Homo sapiens: one gene and its partners. The protein of the gene in region 3 interacts with the protein of the main gene of each other region in a pairwise test. Each region holds a gene or a part of one and is shown on either strand. Other genes may lie near its edges.

The links. Proteins that work in one complex are often made in the same cells at the same time.
Region 1: the proteins of NIF3L1 (region 3) and CDKN2B interact in binary tests that used the Homo sapiens proteins (3 or more experiments, as listed by UniProt).
Region 2: the proteins of NIF3L1 (region 3) and DCDC2 interact in binary tests that used the Homo sapiens proteins (3 or more experiments, as listed by UniProt).

The regions. Positions count from the first base shown.
Region 1 is NC_000009.12:22,006,293-22,013,298, forward strand, and holds the start of CDKN2B (cyclin-dependent kinase 4 inhibitor B), read right to left. Parts: upstream 3,014-7,006; 5' UTR 2,662-3,013; coding exon 2,506-2,661; coding exon of another isoform or gene 2,425-2,505; exon of another isoform or gene 2,383-2,424; intron 1-2,382. UniProt on the Homo sapiens protein: Interacts strongly with CDK4 and CDK6. Potent inhibitor. Potential effector of TGF-beta induced cell cycle arrest.
Region 2 is NC_000006.12:24,299,047-24,306,080, forward strand, and holds part of DCDC2 (doublecortin domain-containing protein 2), read right to left. Parts: intron 2,999-7,034; coding exon 2,922-2,998; intron 2,801-2,921; coding exon 2,669-2,800; intron 1-2,668. UniProt on the Homo sapiens protein: Protein that plays a role in the inhibition of canonical Wnt signaling pathway. May be involved in neuronal migration during development of the cerebral neocortex. Involved in the control of ciliogenesis and ciliary length.
Region 3 is NC_000002.12:200,899,348-200,904,436, reverse strand, and holds the end of NIF3L1 (NIF3-like protein 1), read right to left. Parts: intron 5,053-5,089; coding exon 4,969-5,052; intron 944-4,968; coding exon 759-943; 3' UTR 512-758; downstream 1-511. UniProt on the Homo sapiens protein: May function as a transcriptional corepressor through its interaction with COPS2, negatively regulating the expression of genes involved in neuronal differentiation.

The sequences.
Region 1 (7,006 bases), on a different chromosome or scaffold from region 3:
TGGGAGATGCCGGCCGGGGCAAGGCAGGTGGAGCCATTTAAAGAAACACCTAATTGCAAAGTTTTCACCCAGTGCAGAGGTGTTCAGGTCTCTGATGTCTGGTGTTTCTTCATTTGCTGATGCAATCCACTTTCCCACCCCACCTTCAGGTTATACTCAGTACAAATTAAATGCCATTTTATTCTCTAAACGTGCAGAGACAAGAAAGTTGATGGTAAAGTGATGATCATCATTATGGAAAAACAAATCTTGATTTCCATTGGAACATGGGAATCTATTTTGTTAAATGATTTAGGGGCAGAGTTAAATTTATTCGGCTTTTAAAGTTTTAAATTATTTGCCTTGCTGACCCCTCCTCCATAATCCAGGTCTACAAATATTTATTAGGTAGTCAACTACTGTTTGTTAGAAGTTGGGAGTAATGGTTTAGGGGAGAAAATAAACAACTAAGTTTTTTTCTTTCTTTTTTTTTTAATTTATTTAGTTCTCATAGCAAATCCCGTGCGGAAGGCTTTTGTTTGTCATGTGTCTGAGCTCATAACTGGCTTGTAGTGTGATAATTTGAGCCAAAGTTGGAGATTAGAAGGGAAAAGTAAATTAAATCATGCAAAATCTTATAAAATTATAATAAATGATTTTTCCTTAACAGTTCATCATTTTAAATTTAGACTATAATATTTTTAATGTAATATAAAACTAACTATATTTGTATACTACAGGATTTTATAATAGCTAAGATTTAAAAATGTTAAACAGTAAATATTTTGCTATATAAAAAGAGCTTGGGCCAGGCCCAGTGGCTTATGCCTGTAATCCCAGCACTTTGGGAGGCCATAGCAGGCAGATCACCTGAGGTCAGGAGTTCGAGACCAGCCTGGCCAACATGGTGAAATCCCGTCTCTACTACAAAAAATAAAAAATTAGCTGGGCATGGTGGGGCGTGCCTGTAGTCCCAGCAACTCAGGAGGCTGAGGCAGGAGAATCGCTTGCATCCTGGAAGAGGTTGCAGTGAGCTGAGATTGTGCCACTGCACTCCAGCCTGTCCGACAGAGTGAGGCCTCATCTCAAAAAAAATAAAATAAATAAATAAATAAATAGAGCTTGGATGTTAGCAGTCAATCAGGATGATGCATAACTTAGAAAAAATGATGTTTTGCAGGAGTAATCCTGTAGCAGCCATTTGTGTACATGAACATTATGAAAACATTTGCTGTCATATTTAAAGTCAATTATAAGACAATTTTTGGTAACTAAATGTCTAAAATCGAGTTATTTGTTATGGGTTTATGCACTTTAAAATATACCATTTAATTGAAAGGCAGTATACTTCTCATGTTTTGTTGGCTTGTTTCATTAATATTAGAAATGTTCATTTCATCTCTTAAAAACCGTGATAAGTTATATCTACTAGTGATGTAAGGATATTTTACATAGAAAAAAAGGGGAAAATAGCTGCTGTTAGTATTTCAGAAAATGGTGAATTACATATATAACTTGTTTTTATAATTATTAATAAAATTTTAAGTTTTTAAGATGCACTTTACAATATTTTTGCTCCTTTAAAAATCCCTCATTTGTTATACCATTATTCTAAGAATTCAAAAGAAATGAACACTTCTTTAAAATCTATACTATTAACAAGATCCCTTAATATTAGCTTAGTTTTAGAGGGTGATAGTGAGGTGAGTACTGAATATGACCACTAGCCAACGGTAAAGTACAAAAGAGTTGTCCGAGATTGTAAAAGAAATAAAAAATATCAGTACTAATTAAAGCAGGATTCGTACTTAAACATTGAATAAGTGTATTTTAACAATGAAGATAAAGATGCATTATTTATGAAGATCCTTTGCCATTCAAAAAGGACCTAACAGTTGCTGCAGGAATATTTTTGTAATCTGGGCACTGAGTATGATAATTAAAGAATGAGAAACCTATAGAACTATATATTTTTTCTCTTATGCATCACTCATAAGACACTGCTAACATAAAAGGAACTAAGTACTGTGGTTGAGGAATCCCGTCTCATTCTCAATTAACCTCTATGAGAAAACAATACAACAGATTTCATATAGTAGCTTAGAAGTTTACATTGATTTTTTCCATGTACTATGATTTTGTAGAATTCCTTAAATCCAATCTAGAATGCGTAACTTATACTTTACTTATCTTTATCGTTGAAAGCAGACAGACAAGATAATCTTCTTCCCTAAATAAGCTTTCCTTTTCTCCTTTTCTCCCCAATTCAGTCTATTCCTTGCATCTCTGATCATGAGATGGCAGAACAAAAACCACTAAAAAAAGCTTAAACAGTGGGTTTTTCAATGTCTCTCTTTAGGATTTTTGCTGGGTAAAAGCCTGTTTTACGCGTGGAATGCACACCTCCGGCCAACGGAGACTCCTGTACAAATCTACATCGGCGATCTAGGTTCCAGCCCCGATCCGCCGAGGCCGCGCCCCGCGTTCGCGCGCCCCCTGCCGGCGAGGCCCTGGGGCCCCAGCTACCTGGATCGCGCGCCTCCCGAAACGGTTGACTCCGTTGGGATCCGCGCCGGCTTCCAGGAGCTGTCGCACCTTCTCCACTAGTCCCCGCGCCGCGGCGCTGGCCAGACCCTCATCGCTGCCGCCCCCACTGGGCATGCCCTTGTTCTCCTCGCGCATTCCGCAGCCCCCAGACGCGCAGCGGCCCGGATAATCCACCGTTGGCCGTAAACTTAACGACACTCTTCCCTTCTTTCCCACGCTGCTCCGGCGCACTCTCTCCTTCCTAGGAGACCTGGGCTCAGCTTCATTACCCTCCCGTCGTCCTTCTGCGGCTTGGGGCCCCGTGCAGTGGCCGAGCGGCCGGTCGTTAGCTCCGGGCTTTTCCTGGCGCTCAAGAACCAGCGGGCGCGCCTGGATTGCTTCTGGGAAAAAGCGCCTAGCGCGGACGCAGCCGAGCTCAAAGCCGCTCTGGCCGCAGGGTGCGGACGCGTCGCGGAGTCCTCACTGCCCCGCCTCGCTCTGGCAGAGTGGGGAGCCAGCCGGCAAAGAATTCCGTTTTCAGCTGGGCCAAGGGGCCGGCGTCTCCCCACCCCCTTAGGCTCCGCCCCCTGTCCGCTGTGATCGCCGGGAGGCCAGGCCCGGGCCGACGCGTCACGAGGGCGGGGAAGCCTGCCCAAAGATGCTAGGACGCATGCGCCAGAGACTGGGCCAGGGAGCCGCCAGGAATGCTGGCTGCACTGCTCGCTGGATGTCCAGTAAAGCCAAGGCTAATATTTTGGGAATGTTCACCACTGCCCTCAGCTCCTAATCCCCAGTAGGCGGAGCAGAGGATTTCTGTTCCTTCAGCCAGCCAGTTGGTTTCACTGTGGAGACGTTGGTGGCTCCCTTGTGACCGAGAGAAAGTCATTCAAAATAACTCCGTGTTTCTTAAGATGTCTGAAAGCGACAGCTCTGCACCTGTCATACAAGTTAAATTCATCCCCAGGCAGTACTTGGGCTTCACAAGTTTCATAACTTGTATCAAACTTAGCAATTTTCTCTTGGATGTGTCTTTCTGTTTGAATTAGTCAACCATAAAAATAGAGAAAAATCCCGAGAATCATGTTTTGCGTGTGCTTTTTAATTCTTTCCATTTTTGCATTATGGATACAACCCTTAAAAGAGAAAAAAACTAGTTCGAGATTGAGAGTGGCAACCTGGCACACATAAGACAAAAAAAAATTATACTTTAAGAATCTGAGATCCCAGTTTCATCATATTTGTACAGTAAATCTTTGTTTGCACTCTTACCTATTTAAACCCACTTTGTCAGGTATCTTATTTTTATTTATCATGAGTAATAAAGGAAATTTATGCAGTAATAATGAAACATCATAAGAGAGGGGTGTGGTGCTGGGCTTGTCATTAAACAGGCTGAACCTGTCATTAAATTCTCTTCTGAAGATTTAAATGCCAAGTGCTTTTTTTCCCCTTCCTAATCTTCCTAGGTGAGTTTGAATCAACATTTATTACTTAAAATATTTAAAACATTTCAGCGGATGCTACATTGGATAGGAAGAGAACCGCAAGTTATGGATTTGTTGCCTAAAAACTTTGGTGAGGAACTGCATAAGTGGACCTCTCCTAAAAGTGAACAATTTTTGTTTACAGAATCATTTTGGTTCGGAGTGCTGAGGAAGACAAAGTCTTAACAGGAGGGCAATTGCTTGTGTATTGCAAAATGAGAGTCTTCACATGTTTTTTTTAGGATACCTTAGCTCTGACTCCTCATCCCCCAAATCCCTGTAGAATTAAAAAAAGCTCTTTCTTTTAAAGGCAGTGGAAGTGCCACCACCATGGAAGTGCTGGTTAGGGCTGAAAATCTACTGACAGAGCCTCAACAGAGCTGAAATCCACCTGGACAGGGAAGGGAACCGGGTAGCATTAATAACAATTTCTTTTTCTTTCCCATCCAACCCCCATTTCCTAGTCTTCAGTTTCTTAATTTCTCTACCTTTTACTCTTATGCTCTTGTTTTGACCTTTGAGTTTCTCTGAAACTTATCAGAAAAGTTAGGACAAGATAGTCTGACCCAATTCTTGAGCCATTTTCTTAGGTAGTAAATATGTCAGAAAAATGAAAGCTGTTTGGAGTTGATAAGGAAATGGAAGATAATGTTTTTCTTTGAGGGGGACATAAAGAATGGTGATAGGGAAAGAACCAATGACTAAGTAAAATGACTGAGAATCTTGCACGAGGCAGATGTGTGAGCTTCGCGAAGCAAGTTGACTGAATGAAAAACAACTTTGGGTAGGGAAAACGTTGCCGGGGGCATTCGCGCTTACTAGCACCACGGACAGCGCTTTGCTTATACTCAGGCCTGGGTGGTCCTAACCAGCTCCAGACAGAATTCTAAAGCTTCACACTTGATCTTCCAAAGCCCCTTTTCTCCCGTCAAATAGAAAGGACATTATGGAAGCTCAATGAATTTCTTTGAAAAACCAACCTGCTCAACCTGGTTTTCAAATATGATTGGATTTTATCTAATATTCTCTGTATAAAGAATATTATATAGTCTATATTTAGAAGACGAGAAGAGAAATCAAACTTATTGTGTACTCTGTACGAAGTGCTTTACAGCTGTTGTTTCATTTAATACTCATAAAACTCCTCTGTGGCATGTGTCCATATTTCAATTTTACAGACAAGCCAAAAGGATCAGAGAATTTGAGTGACTTGTATACTAGCTAATCATTGTTGGAGGTGGGTATAACTTTTGCGACTTCAGAGTCTTTTTACCCTTTATACTACATAGTGTTTTTTTTAGCAGCTGTCATGGTAGGCTTAACTGGAAAAAAGTAATAAACTGGCTTATAATTATTTTTCAGTCTACACTGTGTTTTCCAGATGGCTCACCTCACAGCACACCCTTACCAGACTTCAAAGATGACATTTCACATGTAATACAATAGCACATTTGTCTTGGACAATAGAGTGAGATTATGAAACATTTTACCTCTCCTTGAAACCCAGCTGTCTCTAGGGTGAAACACAATCTGTTGTTAATGCTTTAAACACATTTAAAAGATGAAGTGGATGGGAACATAGTGGGCAGCTGAAACTTGGAATTGTCAGAGCCATGTCTTTTAATAAGGTGGAGAATTTATAATTGAGAAGAAAGAAAGAGAAAGTTAATGGTAAATTGGCATAGAATTTTGGAGGTCAGTAGAAGGGAATGAGTGGCATCCATTCCAATGTTGCACATAACTCAGATCACTAGTAATAATATTTTTATATTCTAGTTGGTGAAATTGTCTGTATATGACCTTGATATAGAAGTATGAACAGATCTGCCATCCTCTTTTTCTTCAGCGAGGCAGCCGAGCTGCAGACACAGAGATGCAGATCTTTGTGAAGACCCTCACGGGCAAGACCATCACCCTTGAGGTCGAGCCCAGTGACACCATTGAGAATGTCAGTGCGAAAATTCAAGACAAGGAGGGTATCCCCCCTGACAAGCAGCGTCTGATATTTGCCAGCAAACAGCTGGAGGATGGCCGCACTCTCTCAGACTACAACGTCCAGAAACAGCCCACCCCGCACCTGGTGCTGCACCTGCGAGGTGGCATTATTGAGCCTTCACTCTTCCAGCTCACCTAGAAATACAGCTGAAACAAGATGATCTGCCATAAGCGCTATGCTCTCCTGCACCCCTATGCTGTCAATTGCCGCAAGAAGAAGTGTGGCCACACCAACAACCTGCACCCCAAGAAGGTCAAATAAGGCTCTTCCTTCCTCGGAGGGCAGCCTCCTGCCCAGGCCCCATGGCCCTGGAGCCTCAATAAAGTGTCCCTTTCATTGACTGGAAAAAAAAAAAGTATGAATAGAACTGGTTGACTGGCCAAGAGAAACAGCGACCTAACCTTGCCCTCATTTATGCACACTTTTGCATATGATTAGGACTAAGATAGTGTTTATAAGTGAGAAGAGAAGGAAATTCATAATCACTTTTGGGGCTTTTTCAAATTTTTTATGAACACACCTTCCCACCAAGAGGTTTGATTTTCTCCATTTTATGAGTTGGGTTTATTGCTCCGTGATCCACAGTATATCCACTTCTATATTCCCATGTATTTTTCAAGATTAATTAAATGGTGGACTTGTTCATCATTTTAGTATCCGTATTAGTTTGCTAGGGCTGCCATAACAGAATACCACAGACTGAGTAGCTTAAACAACAAATATTTATTTTCTCAGAGTTTTAACTTCTCCTGAGGCTTCTCTTCTTGACTTGCACATGGCCATCCTACTGCTGCCTCTTCACATAGTCATCCCTCTGTGCACACGTGCCCCTGGATCTCTTGTGTGTGTCCAAATTTCCTCCTCTTTTGAGGACACCAGTCAGATTGGATTAGGGCCCACCCCAATGGCCTTATTTTAACTTAGTCACTTCTTTAAGGGCTCTATTTCCAAATACGGTCAAATTGTGAGGTATTGGGCTTAGGACTTTAATATAAAAATTTAGAGGTGACAGAATTTAACC
Region 2 (7,034 bases), on a different chromosome or scaffold from region 3:
TGCCGTGCTATTCACAATAGCAAAGATGTGGAATCAGTCTAGGTGCTCCATCAATGGTGGGCTGGATAAAGAAAATATGGTGTATATACACCATGGAATACTACGCAGCCAGGAAAATACTGAAATCCTGTCCTTTGCAGCAATATGGATGCAGCTGGAGGCCATAATCCTAAGCAAATTAATGCAGGAACAGAAAACCAAATACTACTTATTCTCACTAGTAAGTGGGAGCTTAAATATTGGGTACAGATGGACATAAAAATAGGAACAGTAGATACTGTTGACTGCTAGAGAGGGGAGGGAAATAGAGTGAAAAACTACTTATTGGGTACTATGCTCACTTCCTGGGTGACAACATCTGTACCCGAAATCTCAGCATCATGCAATATACCCATGTAACAAACCTGCAAATGTATTCCCTGAACCTAAAATAAACAAATGAAATTATAAAAAAGAGGTAACTGGTCTAAAAAATTAAGTTGGGAACACTCATTCTATTTTATAAAATGAGATGTTGCCCAACTAAAAATTTCTTAATGAAAAAATTAGGATTTGGAATACTTTGTGTTAAAATAGAATACTTTGGGCCAGTCGCAGTGGCTCACACCTGTAATCCTAGCACTTTGGGAGGCCAAGGCGGGTGGATTGCTTGAGGTCAGGAGTTTGAAACTAGCCTGGCCAACATGGTGAAACCCAGTTTCTACGAAAAAAAATTTTTTTTAATTAGATGGGCATGGTGGCAGGCGCCTGTAATCCCAGCTGTTTGAGAGGCTGAGGCAGGAGAATCACTTGAACCCAGGAGGTGGAGGTTGCAGTGAGCCAAGATCCCACCATTGCACTCCAGTCTGGGCAACAAGAGTGAAACTCCATCTCAAAAAAAAATAAAAATAAAAATAAATAAAATACTTTGTAGTCATTAAAAATAATAAAATAGAGGTATCTGTGCTGATAAGAATAATCTCTAAGATTTATTATAGGAAAAAATCAAGGGGGTGTTTGTATACATGTATTTATTTATTTATACATATGTATGCATTTCCATTTAATGTTTTTAAAAAGTGGTCCAGGTACAGTGGCTCACACCTGTAATCCCAGCACTTTGGGAGGCCAAGGCGGGCGGATTGCTTGACCCCAGGAGTTCAAGACCAGCTTGGGCAACATGACAAAATCTAATCTCTACAAAAAAGAAAAAAAAAACAAAAGCTAGACGTTGTGGTGCATGCTACTTGGGAGGTTGAGGTAAGAGTATCAATTGAGTCTGCACAATCGAGGCTGCAGTGAGCTGAGATCACACCATTGCACTCCAGCCTGGGTGACACAGCGAGACCCTGTCTCAAAAAAATGAAATTAAAAATTAAAAATGTATATGCTTGCACATGCATAGAATATTTCCGGGATGATGCTGAAAAGTACTAGGGAGAAGGACTGGACATGCCTAAGATAGGAGAAATGCTCTTTACTTATATCGTATTTGAATTTTTTGCCACATGTAAAGTATTCCTTTCAATTAAAACACCTAATTATATTTAAAATCTCAATGACTATGAGACTGTGGATATTAATATGTGTAAATATACAAACATTAATCTGCATACACATTTACCTGAAAGACGTAATATGCAATCATTTGAGAACTATTTTATCACGTGTGTATGAAAACACAAACACTTGAAACAGTGTACTCTGCTAAAGCAGTATATACATATACATACTTTTAATATGTTGTGCACATGTATATGTTATTTGTAACCCTCCCATCTGACGGAAAATAAATGTCAGCCTCCATCAAGGGATAATTTCATAGGCTTCACAATTTAAATCTATGATGTTAATCTTCACTTAAATGTTGGAACCTGAAAAAAATGCTTTTGACTTCTTACATTTAGACAACCCCACTAAATTATTCTTTCTATGCCTCCTCTTTAAATGCACTAATACTTCCTGATATCTGATTTTTACCCTAGGCAAATAGTTTAAACTATCAAATAATCATAAATGACCCCTTTAAAAAAAAAAAACGGACAATTAAGAGTTAAGAGGCTGGGCCGGGCTTGGTGGCTCAAGCCTGTAATCCCAGGACTTTGGGAGGCCAAGGCGGGCGGATCACGAGGTCAGGAGATCGAGCCCATCCTGGCTAACATGGAGAAACCCCGTCTCTACTAAAAATACAAAAAATTAGCCGGGCGTGGTGGTGGGCGCCTGTGGTCCCAGCTACTCGGGAGGCTGAGGCAGGAGAATGGCGTGAACCCGGGAGGCGGAGCTTGCAGTGAGCTGAGATCGTGCCACTGCACACCAGCCTGGGCGACAGAGCAAGGCTCCATCTCAAAAAAAAAAAAAAAAAAAAAAAGTTAAGGGGCTGGCTCTTTCAAAAAATCCTTCTCAACTAAAGTTATGTTTGCCTAGTCACTCTAAATCAAAGAATAAAAATCGTTAATATTTGTAGATGTGCTACTATGTGCCAATGACTGTTTTAAGCTCTGTATGTGGATTACCTCATTTTAAACAACGCTATGAGGTATATCTCCATTCTACAGATAAAGAAACTGAGGCATACGGGGCCTAACTGGGGAGCCAAAATTCAAATCCACAGACCAGTGACTCCGGAGCCTCCTGAGAATATCTTCAACAATTCAAAAACTCCTCCACTTACAAGATTGTTTTGACATACCTGTGAACAGCCCCGCTCCTCAGAGTGATTTTTTCTGTGACCATTTGTAGTACATGATCCCACTGATTCAAGGTTTTTCTGGGGATAAGGAGGCGAGAAGCTGGGTTTATGAGGTCTCCATTTGCAATCAAGCTGGAAAACAGGGGGCAAACCTTCTGAAACAGTTATGCCTTGAAAACTACAACACAAATTCCAAACCAAAAGGAAACCACCAAGCCAATTTTAACTTGAAGTATAAAGGGTTTCAACTTACAAGATAGTGCACGGCTCCTGAAGCGGTTTTCTAAAGCGAGCTGACACGTTGATCCTGCTATGGATTACTGGTTTTACCTTTAAAAGCAAAGGAAAAAAAATATAAACCACTAAGCTTATATTAGCTTTTTTTTTCCTATGAGGAAAATCTACAGTTTCTAGGGAACTGCCTGAGACTTCCTGTGCCTTTGTTAAAACCTTGCTTTTCTCAGCATTTCTGTAAACTCTGAGCTCACCCTTTAGCAATATTATAAGCCCTTAACAAAGCTCTCAAGAAAAGAAAGGAAAATTTCCCTTAAGCCCTAGGCACACTGCTCATGATCTGTGGAAAAAAAAAAAAAACAGAAATCATTTTCTGTTACGAAAATATTAAGATAATTTTTAAACAATGCATTCTGAAAAACAACAAAATAATCCTATAAAATCTTGAGCTCTGAAGTGCTGTGCCTGCAGCCCAACATACTGTGTTCCATCATCTTTCCTTTCCCATTCCCATGCACCTGCTTTCTGATCCTTGGCCCCCACCAAGTGCCTGACCCCACCCTTTTCTCTTAAGACTGACACAAGCAATTTTTCCCAGGTTTCACTTTCTCCCCTATCCCCCATTGAATCAGGTACACTCACGCCAGCACCCTCAATTCCCGCAGCCCTTGCCACTGGGTAGATGTGATCACCTTTGCCTCTCTTTTTGCTTCCAGGGTCCCAGCTGCTATTAGAGAGAACCACGGGGCCCCATGAGCAGCCCTCACCTGAGACCAGCTTTCAGCATCAAGCCATCACCTGGACCTCAGTATAGCTTGCTCAGCCAGCCCTCCACTCCTCCCACAGTTCTTTTTTCCATTTCCCACAGTGGATAGTCCAAATCCTCACCTCTCATCTCACCTCACCCCTCACCTAACCCTTAAAATCCCACTCCAGGCACACACACTCTCAGCAGGTCATTTCATTCCAAATGTCAAGAAATAGAAGCCAGTAGACACGAAGCCCCTCAACTTTCCTTCCCTCCACAACTCACCTCATCTAGATCCTCACCATTTTTCTCCTTTTCTGCCTGTCTCAGAAGGAACTATATGCCTTTAGGAAGCTAACCCCACATCTTGATTTTGTCCCCGGCTGTCTCTGCTTGTTCATTCATTTAAGACCTCCATCTCTACCTGGTGCCTTTAATTTTCCCCTTGACCTTATGGCCGCTCTCAAGTACAGCTGCCATCTCTCTCTTCATTATTCCTATTCCGACTTCCTCCCTATCCTCTCTTCAGGCTTCTGCCGTCTGGTGTCCACCTTTAATACTGGAAGATAAATCCCGACTTTCAAGCATGGCCTGCAAGAACTCCCAGGGCCAAGTGCCGCTTACTTGGTGCCCTCATCTCCTACCAACACTCCTTCCACACAGACTCCTCGTCACGCACTGTAGTTGAACCAGCCTGCTCCCCTCCATTCCCAAAACATCCCCTGCATCCACACCTTGCCTTTGCCCCTCTGGCTAAAACGCCCTCCTCATTTCTCCACCTACTGGAATTCCATCTGCTCTTCAAGGCCCAGCTCAGTTATCACCAATCATTCCCTGCTCATTCTTCTTGCGCTTTCTGTCTCAAACTGCTACAGCTACTATAGTATTGATTCTTGCACTTTGAGTTTTAGGTGATTTTACCCCATGATTTGAAAGGAAAACTTACAAACAACACTAATTTATAAAAATAGGTAACAGTTGTGCTATATTTCATGGCAAGCACCGTACTAAGTAATTTATATGCATTATATATTTTCTAATCATCAAAACAGTGTCCTGAAGTGGCATTACTATAGTCCCAATTTACTAAAGAAACTGGAGCTTGATTAATTAATTGGCCTAAAATCACACATAATAAGTGGTAGAGTTTTAGTGAACCTATGTCTATGAGCCCCTACTATTTGCTACGCACTTTGCTAGTTATCTTAAAAATCAAATAGTAGCCCTAGATCATTTATGGGACTCCATTCTTGGTAGAATTATGCCATCTCTGAGAGAAACAAGAATGAATATTTTTTCTGTGACTCTCAAGTGCCTAAAACAGTGCTTGGCAATGCCTACGAGTTGCACAATAAATGTTTGTTAAAATGTCATACTCTAGAGTACAATTTTTAAAATTTAATCATAGTAACTTTTTTTCATTTTAAGCACACAGGTTCTTAGCCCTACACTAACACCTAGCATCACATTAAGTGACGCTGACTTTTTAAAAAATGTTTAACAGGGCTGGGTGTGTTGGCTCACGCCTGTAATCCCAACACTTTGGGAGGCTGAGGCAGGTGGATCTCCTAAGGTCAGGAGTTGGAGACCAGCCTGGCCAACATGGTGAAACCCTATCTCTACTGAAAATACAAAACTTAGCTGAGTGTGGTGGTGTGCACCTGTAGTTCCAGCTACTCAGGAGGCTGAAGCATGAGAATTGCTTGAAACCGGGAGGCAGAGGTTGCAATGATCTGAGATGGCACCATTGCACTCCAGCCTGGGCAACAAAGCGAGACTCTGTCTCAAAAGAAAAAATAAAATAAAATGTTTAGCAGGTAATGCACGCACCTGAACAAAATTCAAGTGGTTAAAGGGGGTGTACAGTAAAAAAGAAGTGTCCTTCCCACTCCTATGCCCTAATCACCAAGCTGCAACCAGAGTTAGAAATATTCCTTCAAAGATAGTCTGTACATACACATGCATATTATCTTATGTACATAGCACATACATACAATTTTTAAATGCGCTGATGGCCTGCTTTACCAATTCTTCAGCACCTTGCTTTTTTAATTTAATAATTTATCATGGAGATTGTTTCAAATGGGTACTTACAAGTGAGGGTTATATCATTTTTTTTCCCTTTTAGAGACAGGGTGTTGCTCTGTCACCCAGGCTAGAGTACAGTGGTGCGATCACAGCTCACTGTAACCTCAAATTCCTGGGCTTAAGCATTCCTCCTTAGTGCCTTAGCTAGCAATGCACTAAGCACATACAGAGGATGCTCTGCTGTTATCTCTTCAATATGTGACTCTCTAACCATACCCATTCTTGATGGTTTAAAATCTTGTTGGGTTATTGAATTAAAGGCAAAAGTTAATATGTTATATCAATAAGTAACTTTAAAAATCTTGTTGCATTGTCTAAAACATGCTGTTTTGCTTTAGAGCACAGATAGCTATAAACAATATATTGAAATTCATAAAAATACATGATTGTTGAAATAATTATGTAATTTGATTCTGAGTATGTAAATTATTACTTGAATTCAATCAAACCATCTGTTTTAAATAATAATTGTTTTCCTCATTCGGCATGGCAAAAGTGTTCCCCAAATGTTCATGATTAACCAGTTGAATTGAAAACTAATCTTAAAGTTATATTTCCTTGAGTTACATAATTAAAATAACTAAATTACTGTTTTCAGATACACTAAAAATCTGAAAAACTACTCAAAGTAGTATACCTGAATTGTAAAAGAAACAAAAAGATAATTATAAAAAATGATTCATACTTTTTAAAAACAATACCAGTTTTTATATAAAATGCATTTTTAGCAGGCATTTTAAGTAATAAACAACACACAAAAAAATTAAACCAAATCAACTGGGTATAAGAGGAACTTCTCCAGAGCCCTAATCGGGGATAAAGGGTTGGTCAGTTGGTGGTACTCTAGGGACATGATGGCTTTAGATGATGGGGAACATAATGATAAATTAGAATTTTTAAATCAATTTTCTTATTAGCCCATACACTTCCCCTTGCACTGTAAACATAAATGCCACTTCAGGCCAGGTGCAGTGGCTTACACCTATAATCCCAGCACTTTGGGAGGCCAAGGGGGGGTGGATCACCTGAGGTCAGGAGTTCGAGACCAGCCATGGCCAACATGGTGAAACCCCATCTCTACTAAAAATACAAAAATTATCTGGGCGTGGTGGTATGCACCTGTAATTCCAACTACTTGGAAGCTGAGGGATGAGAATCACTTGAACCCAGAAGGCAGTGGTTGCAGTGAGCCAAGATTGCACCACTGCACTTCAGCCTGGGCAACAAGAGCAAAACTCTGTCTCAAAAAAAAAAGAAAGGAAAGAAAAGAAATGCTACTTGAAATATGAGGGTAAT
Region 3 (5,089 bases):
AAGGGGCATCCACATGGATAAAAGGCCCAGATTAAATGGGGCAGGATGATATTTTGAGATATCTGACTTTGTTCTTTCTGCTCTGGAATTTCATTCCCTGGCCCTGCCCCCTGCCTGCGGCAGCCAAGTTCATTGCCAGGAGAGGGAAGTGACAGAGCAGAAATCGGGAACAAAGGACTGTGGAAGAAAAAAAAATTACAGGTAAGTCATCTAAAAAGCAATAAAGTAACAGTAATATGAATAATGATTGTGTATACATATTTTCAAAACAACATCCTGATAAATCTCATTCTGATTCTGAAATTTAGGTGAGAGACTGGAATGTAGGCAGAACTAGGAACAAGGACAAACAGAACTTCTTATCACTGCAAAAAGGCTACTACCTAGAAGTGTTCAAGCCCAAGTTTTTCAAGCATAATGTTAACTAACCAAGGGCAGAGATACCCAAATGGATCCATCCCATCTACAATTAAACTAAGGACAGAATCACTTGAGCTCCTTCCAAAGAATGTTAAGTAAACAGATTTTATTCAATCTTTCCTAGAGTTTATAATGAACATTTGTTATTTAATATGGTAGTTATATTACAGTTTTACCTTACGAGCGATAGAACATTTGGTGAATAAGATTAACAAACCGGAAATGATGATACCCTCGAAGACACTCTCTGGAAGCACACCAGTCCCACTGACTCATGTTACAAATTTAAGTTGGCATCCAGCTGATTTGTAGAATGTGTTATCCTGATGTTTCTGCAATTATACCACCTGAAGAGGGTCCCTGTCAGTCTCTGATAGGATAATATTTATCTTATTCTCCAAGTGAGAATCCAGCATATCTCGAAGGTCAGAAAGAAAGCCTCGTTCAGTGTTGCTGTGTTCACAGAGGATGACATTTATTCCTTGGGAAGCAGCATCCAAAGTATCATGATGGGACATCTCACCTACCAAAAAGGGAAGAGCAAATTCTTAAATGCTAAATATGGAATCTGTGGAATGAGGAAACACAAAAGCAGAAATACCAAGTTTGTAGTCTATATGAAGTGAATGTAATAGAGCAGAACTGTTTTACATATAAATCTAGAAAGTAGTGTACAGTTTTCTTTTATGTCCTCCAACTTAAAAAGAGAGAAAAGTCTGGGCGCGGTGGCTCACGCCTGTAATCCCAGCACTTTGGGAGGCCTAGGCAGGCAGATCACCTGAGCTAAGGAGTGCTAGACTAGCCTGGCCAACATGGTGAAACTTCCATCTCTACTAAAAACACAAAAATTAGCTGGGCGTGGTGGTGCGTGCCTGTAATCCCAGCTACTCAGGAGGCTGAGACAGGTGAATAGCTTCAGTCCAGGGCCTGGAGGTTGCAGTGAGCCGAGACTGCACCACTGCACTTCAGCCTGGGTGACAGAGTAAGACTATCTTGAAAATATAAAAATAAAATCCATCCCACTGAGAATTCCAACTTCTTTTTCCTTAGCAGACCCCAAGGCAATTATCCAATCCAACATATCTGGCCAGAACCAGATCTGTAAACACCCATTCAAAGTGTTTCCACGGTAAAATGAATGATCACTGCCAAGTAAAATGAGGCCTTCAGAAAATTTGCCTCTTATGTAAGTAATAAATACCTCTGGAGGAAATTATATGTATACTGCCCAGCAGACTTATGCTTTGTAAGCACCAGTATTTCTGTCGTCAACTTAGTCTAATATATAAGGATGAAATGAATTTAAGATTACTTCCAGGTTAAAAACAAAGTATTTTTCTTTGACTTAAGCAAAATCCCTAGAAACTCTGGAGGGAATCTCATCTGTTGTGAAAAGATTTGGGGAAAATTCATATTCTGAATTTTTAATTTATATTGTTAATTTTTTTTTAGATGGAGTTTTGCTCTGTCACCCAGGCTGGAGTACAGTAGCACGATCTCAGCTCACTGCAACCTCTGCCTCCTGGGTTCAAGTGATTCTCCTGCCTCAGCCTCTCGAGTAGCTGGAATGACAGGCACCCACCACCATGCCTGGCTAATTTTTGTATTTTTAGTAGAGATGGGGTTTCACCACGTTGGCCAGGCTGGTCTCGAACTGCTGGGCTCAAGTGATCTGCCCGCCTCAGCCTCCCAAAGTGCTGGGATTACAGGCGTGAGCCACCATGTCCAGCCTAATATTCTGAATTTCTTAAAATGCAGTTTGTGAATTTGATGACTTCTAATTTAAGAGCAAAACTGTACTGTGTACAATTAGGTTTGTTCTTTAAAAAGTACAATTTTGAACTGTATTTAGAGACAGAAGGGCATATAAATTTAAGAAAAAAGGGTTCTTGGAAAAAAATGAGTTCTCTTTTAATTTTCCCATAAGAAAACACCTATAAGTAAAAAAATGAGTTTTCTTAATTCCAGAATTTTTTAGTTCCCCACAATCTCCTCCTAATAAGTGTCATCTCATTATAAGGAACAGTTTTTATTCAAGCACCTTTTAAAACATCTTAATCTATAATAGTAGAAGTAAAAAGCAAGAAAAAGACACTAAGATGGCCCAGTTGGAAGCCTTGTTTTAGGAAAGGTAAGTCTGGCTGCCTGTACTGTGACAAATTCATTGGCTGGAGAAGGCATGAAAGGGGGGAAATCAGTGAAGACCCTGCAATAATAGCTGAAGCCAATGGAAAGAAAAGCTTGGCCCAGGATGGCAGCTTGGGAAAGAATAAGCAAATGGAGAATGAAAAGACAAATGGGAGAACTTAATTTACAAGGAGCAGGCTCCCCATCTGCTGGTCTTACGGGGTATTACCCTTAACAACCTAATACAATGAGAACACGGCCTCAGGCTCACAGGAAGCGTGATGAAGTTCAGCAGAGGTCCTTTAGGTGGGGCTTCACATCTCTGAAGTTATACTCAAAAGTGATGCCTCACAGACCAGAGACAGCTAATGCTAGCCGGATAATATATTTTCTATTTCTCCCCACAGCCAGATAGGAAGGACATTTTAACATTTTGGAACTGCTTGAATTTATCTTATGCACGTATCATTATACTTTATCATTGTTTTAAAAAACTAGTTTTTAAAAAAGTATAAGGAAACAGATACCCCAAATTGAGAGAGAAGCACAAAACAAAGAGCCTATACTCTTTAAAAATGTCAATGCTATGGAGACAAAGCTGAGAAACTATTCCAGACTGAAGGAGACTAACAACAACTAAATGCAATGTGAGATCATTGGCTGGATATGGATCAGAAAAAGAAATGCTATAAGCTTTTATCAATTGGGAAAATGTGAATATGGACTGTATATCAAGTAAGTGTTTTAACAATATTAAATTCCCATGTTTGATAATTGTTCCATGGACTTAGAATGTCTTTGTTCTTAGACTATACACTGAAGTATTGAGAGGTAAAGAAATTGTCATGTCTGCAATTGATTACAAAATGGTCCTAGGGGAAATACATCAATATATATATAGAACATATTTTAACTTGTATATATTATGTATCTATACATGCAAACACAAATGTGTATAGACACATATATAATATGCACATAGGGAATGTACAAATATGGCAGAATATAACCATAGTAACCAAGGTGAAGAGCATATAGGAGTTCAGTATACTATTCTTGCAACTTTTGCATAGGTCTGAAATTCCTAAGTAAAATGCTAAAATGAATTTTAAAATAGCCAGACACAATACTGTAAGATATTCATATTGAAATTTCACTTTAATCTGGTAGAAATTTAAGGGCTTACAAAAATCTTTTATCTTCAGAAAATATAAAATAAGTAATAGTCACATACATGTTTTGTTTTTTTAAATCAATTTATTGGTTTAGAGCAATTCCATCAGGCTTGCTCAGATGCTGCTCCTCGGTACTTCAGGATGTGACAATGCTTTGAGTGCAGCAGCCTTTGTAAGAGAGTGTGCTATATAACAAAGTGTGGGTGTGGGAGGCAAGGGAAGCATGGAAGTAGCCAAAGGAATGGCCAGAGGGCTAAGAGCCTAGAGCCTGGTCCTCAAAGTGGGAAAAGTAATTCTTTAACTCATTCTCTCCTAACCCTAAGAAGGAGGAGGTAAACAAAGTGGCAACCCCTTAAAATGCCTCCAAATCCTTTGGAGGTGTAAGGGGCCATGTTTGGCCATATTCCTGAGTAGTAACTACATAAAGTAATTCTTTCAATAAAAATTAGCCAGGACCTATTAGGTAGTATCCTAAATGAGAAAGTATAAGGCCCAGCAGCCAGACAATTACTATCCAACAGAAGTGCACATTGGAGGTCAAGGACAAAGTGATAGGGACCCACAAGAGGCAGGAGCAGGACAGTGTCAGAGAAGGCTTCTCAGAGGGGGTGTTCACTTATCACTAGGAGTACAAGGAAAAGGCATTCTAGCCAGAGAAAACAGCATAAGCAAAGGGTACAGGAAAGGGGATGCAATGTTCAGGCTCCACCAGACAGATGAAGGAAATCACTGAAGTCTTTTTAATCAAGACCATCAAATTTGCACTTTGAAAAGTTAATTTCAGGAGAGTATATGGAAGATACCATTAGAGGGTTGATGCTGTACTTCAAGTAGGAGATGGTGCCTGGATAGAGATAAGGGGGAAGATTCTAGAAAGATTTGGGAGCTTGAATTGATAGGAATTGATGATTGGCTTTAGGCTGAGTAAAAGGAACCATTTCCTAGCTAAGGTGACAGGGTAGAAAGTATCCCACTGATGTGAAATCTGAGAGGTTTGGGACAGTTTAGGAAGAATGTAGGTAAAATAAATGCTGACCATTAACTTTTGAGATAATGTAATAAACTGTTCAATGATTTCATCCCTCCACAAAGAATGCAGTAAGTCCCCAGTTCTGTTGTAGTTTCTGTTTAGTTCAGGTTCAGAAAACATTAATTAGGTATCATCTATGTGCCAGGTACTGTCCTAAAATTTGCCATTTTTGATTTTGCAAAAAATAAACCAAGAGAGATCCAAAGTCTGTCCTACCTGTGAGGTAAAGGTCAGCCTCAACACCCTGCAGAACGCTGCTCCCAGAACCAGCACACAGGGCCACGACTTTGACTTGAGACTCTTCAAAACAGAGGAAACAAGAGACCAATACTTTACA